Regions from separate parts of the Homo sapiens genome. Here regions 2 and 3 are each linked to region 1. Evidence: fine-mapped expression QTL. A gene starts in region 1. Each other region holds a variant in brackets. All regions are shown on one strand. Distances are from middle to middle.

What was found. PIP is the estimated chance that this variant, and not a neighbour inherited with it, causes the effect.
Region 2: its variant is the best candidate, but not a certain one, in a credible set for the expression of DCAF4 in whole blood (TOPMed, PIP 0.52).
Region 3: its variant is the best candidate, but not a certain one, in a credible set for the expression of DCAF4 in whole blood (INTERVAL, PIP 0.60).

Annotation. Positions count from the first base shown.
Region 1 is chr14:72,925,048-72,927,709 of GRCh38, forward strand. DCAF4 (DDB1 and CUL4 associated factor 4) reads left to right here and starts at 1,417. Exons shown (of 14, transcript NM_015604.4): 1 at 1,417-1,496. RefSeq lists enhancers at 1-395, 796-895, 1,186-1,455, 2,127-2,662 and a silencer at 1,626-1,685.
Region 2 is chr14:73,197,461-73,199,960 of GRCh38, forward strand. PSEN1 (presenilin 1) reads left to right here. Exons shown (of 12, transcript NM_000021.4): 8 at 571-669. Among named protein-coding and RNA genes, the nearest start is that of PAPLN, 39 kb to the right of the region's middle. The variant G/T (reference allele first, on the strand shown) is at 1,288.
Region 3 is chr14:72,955,381-72,958,228 of GRCh38, forward strand. DCAF4 (DDB1 and CUL4 associated factor 4) reads left to right here. Exons shown (of 14, transcript NM_015604.4): 12 at 143-316; 13 at 1,006-1,120. Among named protein-coding and RNA genes, the nearest start is that of TRC-GCA8-1, 6.2 kb to the right of the region's middle. The variant G/A (reference allele first, on the strand shown) is at 1,505.

The sequences.
Region 1 (2,662 bases):
ATTACAGGCGCCCGCCACCACGCCCGGCTAATTTTTTGTATTTTTAGTAGAGTTGGGGGTTTCGCCATGTTGGCCAGGCTGGTCTGGAACTCCTAGCCTCAAGTGATCCACCCGCCTCAACCTCCCAATGTGCTGGGATTTCAGGCGTGAGCCACTGCACCCGGCCTGACTACTCTTTCCCTGGCAATTGCTGCGTCACCAAGCCCCAACCCACCCTGCTGAGTTTTCCTTCCAAGACTCCCCTCCCATCCAGCCGGCTTGAACCGGCCTCCAGTCACGTTGTTTGTTCAGCTAGAATTTTTCTCTGCCTTCTCTTCAAGGCCGCTCAAGCTTCATGAAGCGGTTCTTTATTCTGACTATGCCCACTTCTCTCATTTCCCTCATCACCCGGCCCCGCTCCACATACTGCATTTATCTATAAACTCCTGAGAGCCAGGAGTTTAGCCTGAAATCCTAGCTTCCTGGTTAAGAGCTGAAATGCCTTCGCACGGCGTGCAATGGGTGAACCCCACCGCCTGCTTTCTAACGGGTCCAAGCCGCGGGCAGGGGCCTGTGTTACGGAGCCGCATGACACACCAGGCCTACTGCTGGACCCCAACAAGCCTAGCCTCTGTGAATCCAGCTGTCCTCACAAACTGTCTCTTCGGGACACAAGCCCATCAGAGGCTTCCGTTTTCCTTTCATAAGATCTCATAACCGTCAGCTGATACCTGGGACAGGCACAGCACACATAGGTCATTCTAGAAATATTGGTGGTCTGAACAAACTCTAAGCTGGAGAGGACATGAGAATGATAGATCCGATTCCTTCTCTCAACAGAAGAAATCAAGGCACAGAGAAGGGAAGAGACTCGCCCTAGGTCCCACAGCAAGCAGCAGTACTGGAGCCAACACGGAGGCCCCCCGGTTTCACGGTCAGGGCTCGCTACGCTACACCCTGAACGCAGACCCAGGGCAGCGGCCTCGGCCGCCTGAGGCCACTGCCGAAGACTTCGCCGCCAGTCGTAACATCACGTTACTTCTGTCCCTCGCCTCACAGACTCCTTCGCTCTTTCCACTACAGCGAGAGGACTTCTCCAGGGCCGCATCACCCTGCGGAGGGAGGAAGACACGGTCTCTCACGAAAGGGTCTCCAGACAGTTCCGCTGCTCCGGGAGCAGCCCCCGGCCCCGCCCCCGCGTGCGCCTGGCCCCACCCCCAAGCGCTCCATGACCAGCCTCCACGTGCATCCGCCCCAGACAGGCCAGGCCTGGGAGGAGCCGAAGCCCCACTCCCCGCCTTCTTCATGAGATCGTCCCTATTGACGTCGACAGACAGAAGCCGCGTCCAGTGAGAAGGAAAGAACGGCCGCTATAGCCCTATCGGCTGCTACAACACCAAAACGCATCCACCTAACTGGCTGACGCTACACCTTGGTCTTTCCGGGTCCTTGCACGCTTCGCTCCAACTCCTGCAGAGCTGAGCCGGAGGGGAATCCGGAAGGGACACGCTGAACAGGTAAGACTGTGCTGCCTGGGGTGCCTACTGGCATCGATTCGAGGGCTGCCGCGCTCCCGCTGCAGAGCTCGGGGTGGGAGACAGGCGCGGCGAGGAAGGCCAGGGAAAGGGGCGGGGAGGGGCGGGGAGGAGTGAGCACGTGGAACGCCGGCGCCACCGGGCCTAGGTGGCAGCTGGGCCGGCGCGCTCCGCCCGTTCTGGGGCGCGTGGGGCCCTCCGGCCGGATCAGTGCTGCAACCGTAAACACGCAGGGAGGGCACCCCGAGTGTCGCCGCTGAGGGCGTTTCTCTAAGCGCTTCTCTGAGACCTGCTGCTGAAGGCCCCACCCGACACCTGGCGGGGGCTGGGCTGCGGGCCTTGGGGCGGTGTCCCCTGTGAATGTTCAGGTCAGCATAACAGGTTAGGTGTGGTTGAAGCTTACGAAGTGGCCGGCTCTGTGCTGCCGGCTTCACAGGCGCTAACATTTGCCAGCGCTATGATGTCCTTGTCAGACGCAGAAAGGGGTGCAGTTTGGTTGTCCGTCGGGGTAGCGCACAACTAGCAAGTGATGGGGCCTGGGTTTGGCCCTCGCCTCCACTCTGAGTTGTGAGTTAGCGAGAAAGCCACGCCTCGTGGGCTCCCCGGGGGCTTCAGAAACCATGACGCCTTTCACCATGGTGTTCTACAGGCATTGTCTTGTGACTCCAGCAGCGCAGCCAGAAGCAAAGAAAACTGAGGGGACGGCTTCCTAGAGGAAACAATTCCAAAGTCCCAAACTCTGATTTTAAATAACGATGGAAATTAGAGTCGCGGTGGTGTTCTTTTTTTTTTTTTTTTTTTTTTTTTTTTGAGGCGGAGTCTCGCTGTCGCCCAGGCTGGAGTGCAGTGGCACGATCTCGACTCACTGCAGCCTCCGCCCCCGGGGTTCACGCCATTCTCCTGCCTCAGCTTCCCGCGTAGCTGGGGCTACAGGCGACCACCACCTCGCCCGGCTAATTTTTTGTATTTTTAGTAGAGACGGGGTTTCACCGTGTTAGCCAGGATGGTCTCGATCTCCTGACCTCGTGATCCGCCCGCCTCGGCCTCCCAAAGTGCTGGGATTACAGGCGTGAGCCACCGCGCCCGGCCTGAGGTGGTGTTCTGTGGGTAACCAGGCCTGGGGGTCCTACCAACAGAGGTGGAATCCC
Region 2 (2,500 bases), 270 kb after region 1:
ATTTAAATTTACTGCCCTCTTACTTCAAGTACTTCTCAGTAGTACGTAATACTGCTTTTAAAAAGGAGAAGGGATGAATTTCTTCTACTCTGCTCTTCATATTTTGAAAAGTTCAGTCAAATCCCCTTTATTAAATTCATCTCAGAGTAATCTTTTTAATTTGTAGTTCATATCCGTGATTAGTTTAGAAGTGACTTCTCCCTGTTTCTGCTCACTGTAGGTTGACAACTGCTTAAAATAGTCTATCTCATCATTATCTCTGCAGCTTTCCTTTAAACTAGGAAGACTTGTTCCTATACCCCAGTAACGATACACTGTACACTAAGCAAATAGCAGTCAAACCCAAATGAAATTTTTACAGATGTTCTGTGTCATTTTATTTTGTTTATGTTGTCTCCCCCACCCCCACCAGTTCACCTGCCATTTATTTCATATTCATTCAACGTCTTTTTGTGTAAAAAGAGACAAAAAACATTAAACTTTTTTCCTTCGTTAATTCCTCCCTACCACCCATTTACAAGTTTAGCCCATACATTTTATTAGATGTCTTTTATGTTTTTCTTTTTCTAGATTTAGTGGCTGTTTTGTGTCCGAAAGGTCCACTTCGTATGCTGGTTGAAACAGCTCAGGAGAGAAATGAAACGCTTTTTCCAGCTCTCATTTACTCCTGTAAGTATTTGAGAAGGATATTGAATTAGTAATCAGTGTAGAATTTATCGGAACTGAAGCACATGTAACTATGGTCATTTTCATGGTACTTGTTCTCATCTTAAATGCACAGCATTCCTGGAACTCCTGCAGATCTCTTTGTTTCCTTGCAAGCAATTGTCTTCTACCTGATGTTGATTCAAGAGAGTTTTCAATATGAATAGAAAGAAAGAAAATGTTTAGATATTGGGGAACCAGCATTCCCATTTTAAAACCTGTTAGGAGTTGTTGATTAGGGCAAGCTCAAGGATTCCTTTGAGTGACTGGTTTAGATGTCTTTCTGCTATTCGGTGACCACTGGGGAACTGAGATTGTTGAGCAGAAGGGTAATGTGAGCAGAGCCGTGCCTTTGTAAGCTGGCAGCACTGTGTGAGATGAATTGGTGGGTTGGATACTGAGATCATGAGAGGCATACTAAGCATAATTAAGATGATATTGCCATGATCTAGGTGGAAAGTAATGGGGGTTTGAATTATGGTAGTGGCAGTAGCAATCAAGGGAAAGAGTTGATCAGAGGATTCAGAGGTAGAATCAATAGTTCTAGCAACTGAGGAGAGAAGTTGTAAGCTTGAAGGAAAG[G/T]TGATGAAGAAAAAATGCTTTCCTGTGTTTTCTTGTTGTTGTTGTTGAGATAGGGTCTCACTCCCATCCAGGATGGAGTACAGTAGTGTGATCATGGCTCACTGCAGCCTCGACCTCCCAGGCTCAGGTGATCCACCCACCTCAGCCTCCCGAGTAGCTGTGACTACAGGCACGCACTACCAGGCCTGGCTAATTTTTTTGTGTTGTGTGTAGAGACTGGGTTTTGCCATGTGCCCAGGCTGGTCTTGAACTCCTCGGCTTAAGCGATCCTCCTGCCTTGACTTCACAAAGTGCTTGAGTTACAGGTGTGAGCTACCACGCCTGGCCATGTTTTCTTGTGTGAAGGATCTGTTTAGTTTTATATCTTTCTGTGGCTCATATCTAATTTAGTTGACAGTACCTGTGGGTCACTAGGTAGACATTGCTAGCAGACGTTTAGAAATGAAATACTAGAGCTTGGGAAAAAGTTGATATTTGAGATAGAGACTTGAAGAACATTAGCAGAGAGTTGGTAGTTAAGGTCTGTGAGCTGGTGAGCAATTCAAATAAAAGCAGAAGAGAAGAGGAAGACAAGGGTCAAACTTTGTCAACTACTGTGTTTAGAGAATGAGACAAGAGAGGATACTACAGGAAGTAGAGGAAAATAGTGGAAAATTGGGCAAGCCAGTATTTTTCACTTAAGAATATCATTACTGTTTTTTGATGTCAGCACATGAAATGGCTGCATAGTGTTCTCTTACGTAGATATTCAGTGGTGGGTATCCTCATTGATAGACATTTAGATCATTTCCATTTATTTTCTATCACAGACAGCACTTACAGAGTGCATCCATGAACTTATGAATATTATTATAAAATGTATTCTTACAGTAGAATTGCTAAGTCAAAGGATGTATTTAAATTTTGATAGTTTGCCATATTGCCTCCTAAAAAAGCTGTGCCTGTTTACATTCCCTTCAGTAATATGAAAGTATCAATTTCCTTACCCCTTTGGTGTTTTGGTTTGTTTTGTTTTGGAGACTGAGTCTCGCTCTGTCATGCAGGCTGGAGTGCAGTGGTGCGATCTCGGCTCACTGCAACCTCCGCCTCCTGGGTTCAAGCAGTTCTCCTGCCTCAGCCTCCGGAGTGGCTGGGATTACAGGCGTGTGCCACCACACCCAGCTAATTTTTTGTATTTTTAGTGGAGACACGGTTTCACCATGTTGACCAGGCT
Region 3 (2,848 bases), 30 kb after region 1:
GACCCAAACCCTGACCAGCACGTGTCTAATCACACCGTCTGACCCAGAGGCTGGAAGAGGGGTTGTATCAGGAGGACCTGCCCTGCCCAGCCTCAGAGGGATGTCATGATAGCCAGGCACTGAGCAGTCCCTCTTTCCACAGGCTCCTCTGCTGTTTAATGGCTGCCGCTCTGGGGAAATCTTTGCCATTGATCTGCGTTGTGGAAATCAAGGCAAGGGATGGAAGGCCACCCGCCTGTTTCATGATTCAGCAGTGACCTCTGTGCGGATCCTCCAAGATGAGCAATACCTGATGGCTTCAGACATGGCTGGAAAGGTAGGGGATCATGGACTTTCTCAGGCCACAGGGTCTCGTGGCCCAGTGCCCTGCCAGGTGAAAGGGTTCTGCTGAAGAGGTCCTCACACCAAGACCCCAGGCAGGGGAATTTCGCTGAAGACCAAGTGATTTGTAGGCCCTGCATGGGGACTGCTTCGTTGACCATATGAGCCTAATCTGACGTAAACAAAAGTGAAAAGGATTCTCTGGTTATGTCCTTTTTTTTTTTTTTTTTTTTTTTTTTGAGATGGAGTCTTGCTCTGTCGCCCGGGCTGGAGTGCAGTGGTACTATCTTGGCTTACTGCAACCTCTGTCTCTCAGGTTCAAGCGATTCTCCTGCCTCAGCCTCCTGAGTAGCTGGGATTACAGGTACCCGCCACTGCGCCCGGCTAATTTTTGTATTTTTAGTAGAGATGGGGTTTCACCATGTTGGTCAGGCTGGTCTCGAACTCCTGACCTCATGATCTGCCCACCTTGGCCTCCCATAGTGCTGGGATTACAGGCATGAGCCACCGTGCCCGGCCTGGTTACATGCTTTTGATGAACAACAAGGCTCAAGAATTCGAGATGGAGATCTTCATGACCTGCACAGGCCACTGGAGACCACCTTGCCTTCCTGGCTTTGCACTTGGGGACCACCATGGTACCCCCTGGCCCCTCCCTGATGGCCCCTGGTGCTTTTTCCACAGATCAAGCTGTGGGACCTGAGGACCACGAAGTGCGTAAGGCAGTACGAAGGCCACGTGAATGAGTACGCCTACCTGCCCCTGCATGTGCACGAGGAAGAAGGAATCCTGGTGGCAGGTACTTGAGGAAGGAAGGGGAAGTTCCACCCCATCAAATACTGTCTCTCAGGGGCGATCCCAGCAACTTCAGCAGCAGAGGGAAAAGTTACCCCAAAACAGAACTGAATCAAGGGGAGTGTGGACAGCTGGGTGGGGAGACTAGGAGGGAAGTAGAATTAGATTATATTAGTAATCAGGAGTGTAAATAAATGTCCACCAGGTGGACAGCCTCATCCCATGTCAGTGGGCAAACGTCACTTCAGAAACAGGCAGGTGGGGAGGTCCTGGGGAGCCTGGGTTTGGAGTTTGAGTGGATTTCATCAGGCCAGCATTATTCCACCACGCAACTATCTTATCCAAAAACTTGGGCTCCCTGTTGTCTCTACTCACATTTCCACCAGAG[G/A]ATGCTGAGAAAAGAAGTTATGGTCATTGTAAAGATTCTTGGCCCCGGCCCGGCGCGGTGGCTCACGCCCGTAATCCCAACACTTTGGGAGGCCAAGGAGGGTGGATCACGAGGTCAGGAGATTGAGACCATCCTGGCCAACATGGTGAAACCCCATCTCTACTAAAATACAAAAATTAACTGGGCATGGTGGCACCTGCCTGTAATCTCTCAGCTACTCGGAAGTCAGAAGCAGGAGAATTGCTTGGACCAGGAAGTCGGAGGTTGCAGTGAGCCGATATCACGCCACTGCACTCCAGCCTGGCAACAGAGCGAGACTCCGTCTCAAAATAAATAAATAAATAAAAAAGATTTGTGGCCCCTTTACTACCATCCCTGTGGCTCCATGATCTGCAGATTAGGAGCAGCTATCTGGCCACTAAGCCCCCTGGAAGGGAGTTACCAGTTGATTACAGATGATGGTGGCTATAGCGTAATCAGACAGTGTGCAGGCTCAATGCTTTCACACTGAAATAGTAGCTGCTGACACTGCAGAATGTGTTCTCAGTCTTCAAGAATTGTCACCTCTACTGGTATTCCTATAGAAAGGGCTTATACCCCATGGAACATTTTTGTGGCTAGGAAGCATTACTTTGTTAGGACATTCATAGACTTATTTACTATTCTCATCAACACCAGGACTTCGCCTCCTTTTTAAGTCGATTTTTCACCTGTTTTTATCACAGAAGAGCTCTTGTGAGCTGGATGATAGAGAGAGCTCAGCCTTGCTGAGAGGCAGATGCAGGTAGTTACCAGCTGCAGTAATAAACTGCAGCCGGGATTCAGCTTCAGCCAAGATAGCACTTCTGGTCTTAGAGCCACACAAGTGATCAGAATCACAAATGTGAAATCCATGACTGCCCAAGGCCTGTCCTCTTCTCCTGCTGAAGGTCTCCAGTAGTGTATATCATGTTTCTGGGCTGCTGTAACCCATGCTGTTGTGTGTCACAGTCCTCAGAACTGGAGCCCTGAAGACTTAAACCGGTCCTAGGAACTGAAGCATTAAACCAGAAAGAGCTGTGGGGAGAGTTGTCAACCTAGCCCATCCCCAGGATGTAATGACTTTGACAGATCTTTTACTATAACATGAAAAGATCAGGCCAGGTGTGGTAGCTATAATTCCAGCACTTAGGGAGCTTGAGGCCAGGAGTTTAAGACCAGCTGGGGCAACACAGCAAGACCCTATCTCAAAAAAAAAAAAAATTAGGCATGGCGGCACACACTTGTAGTCCCAGTTAACTCAGGAGGCTGAGGCAGAAGGATGGCTTGGGCCCAGGAGTTCAAGGCTGCAGTGAGCCCTGATCA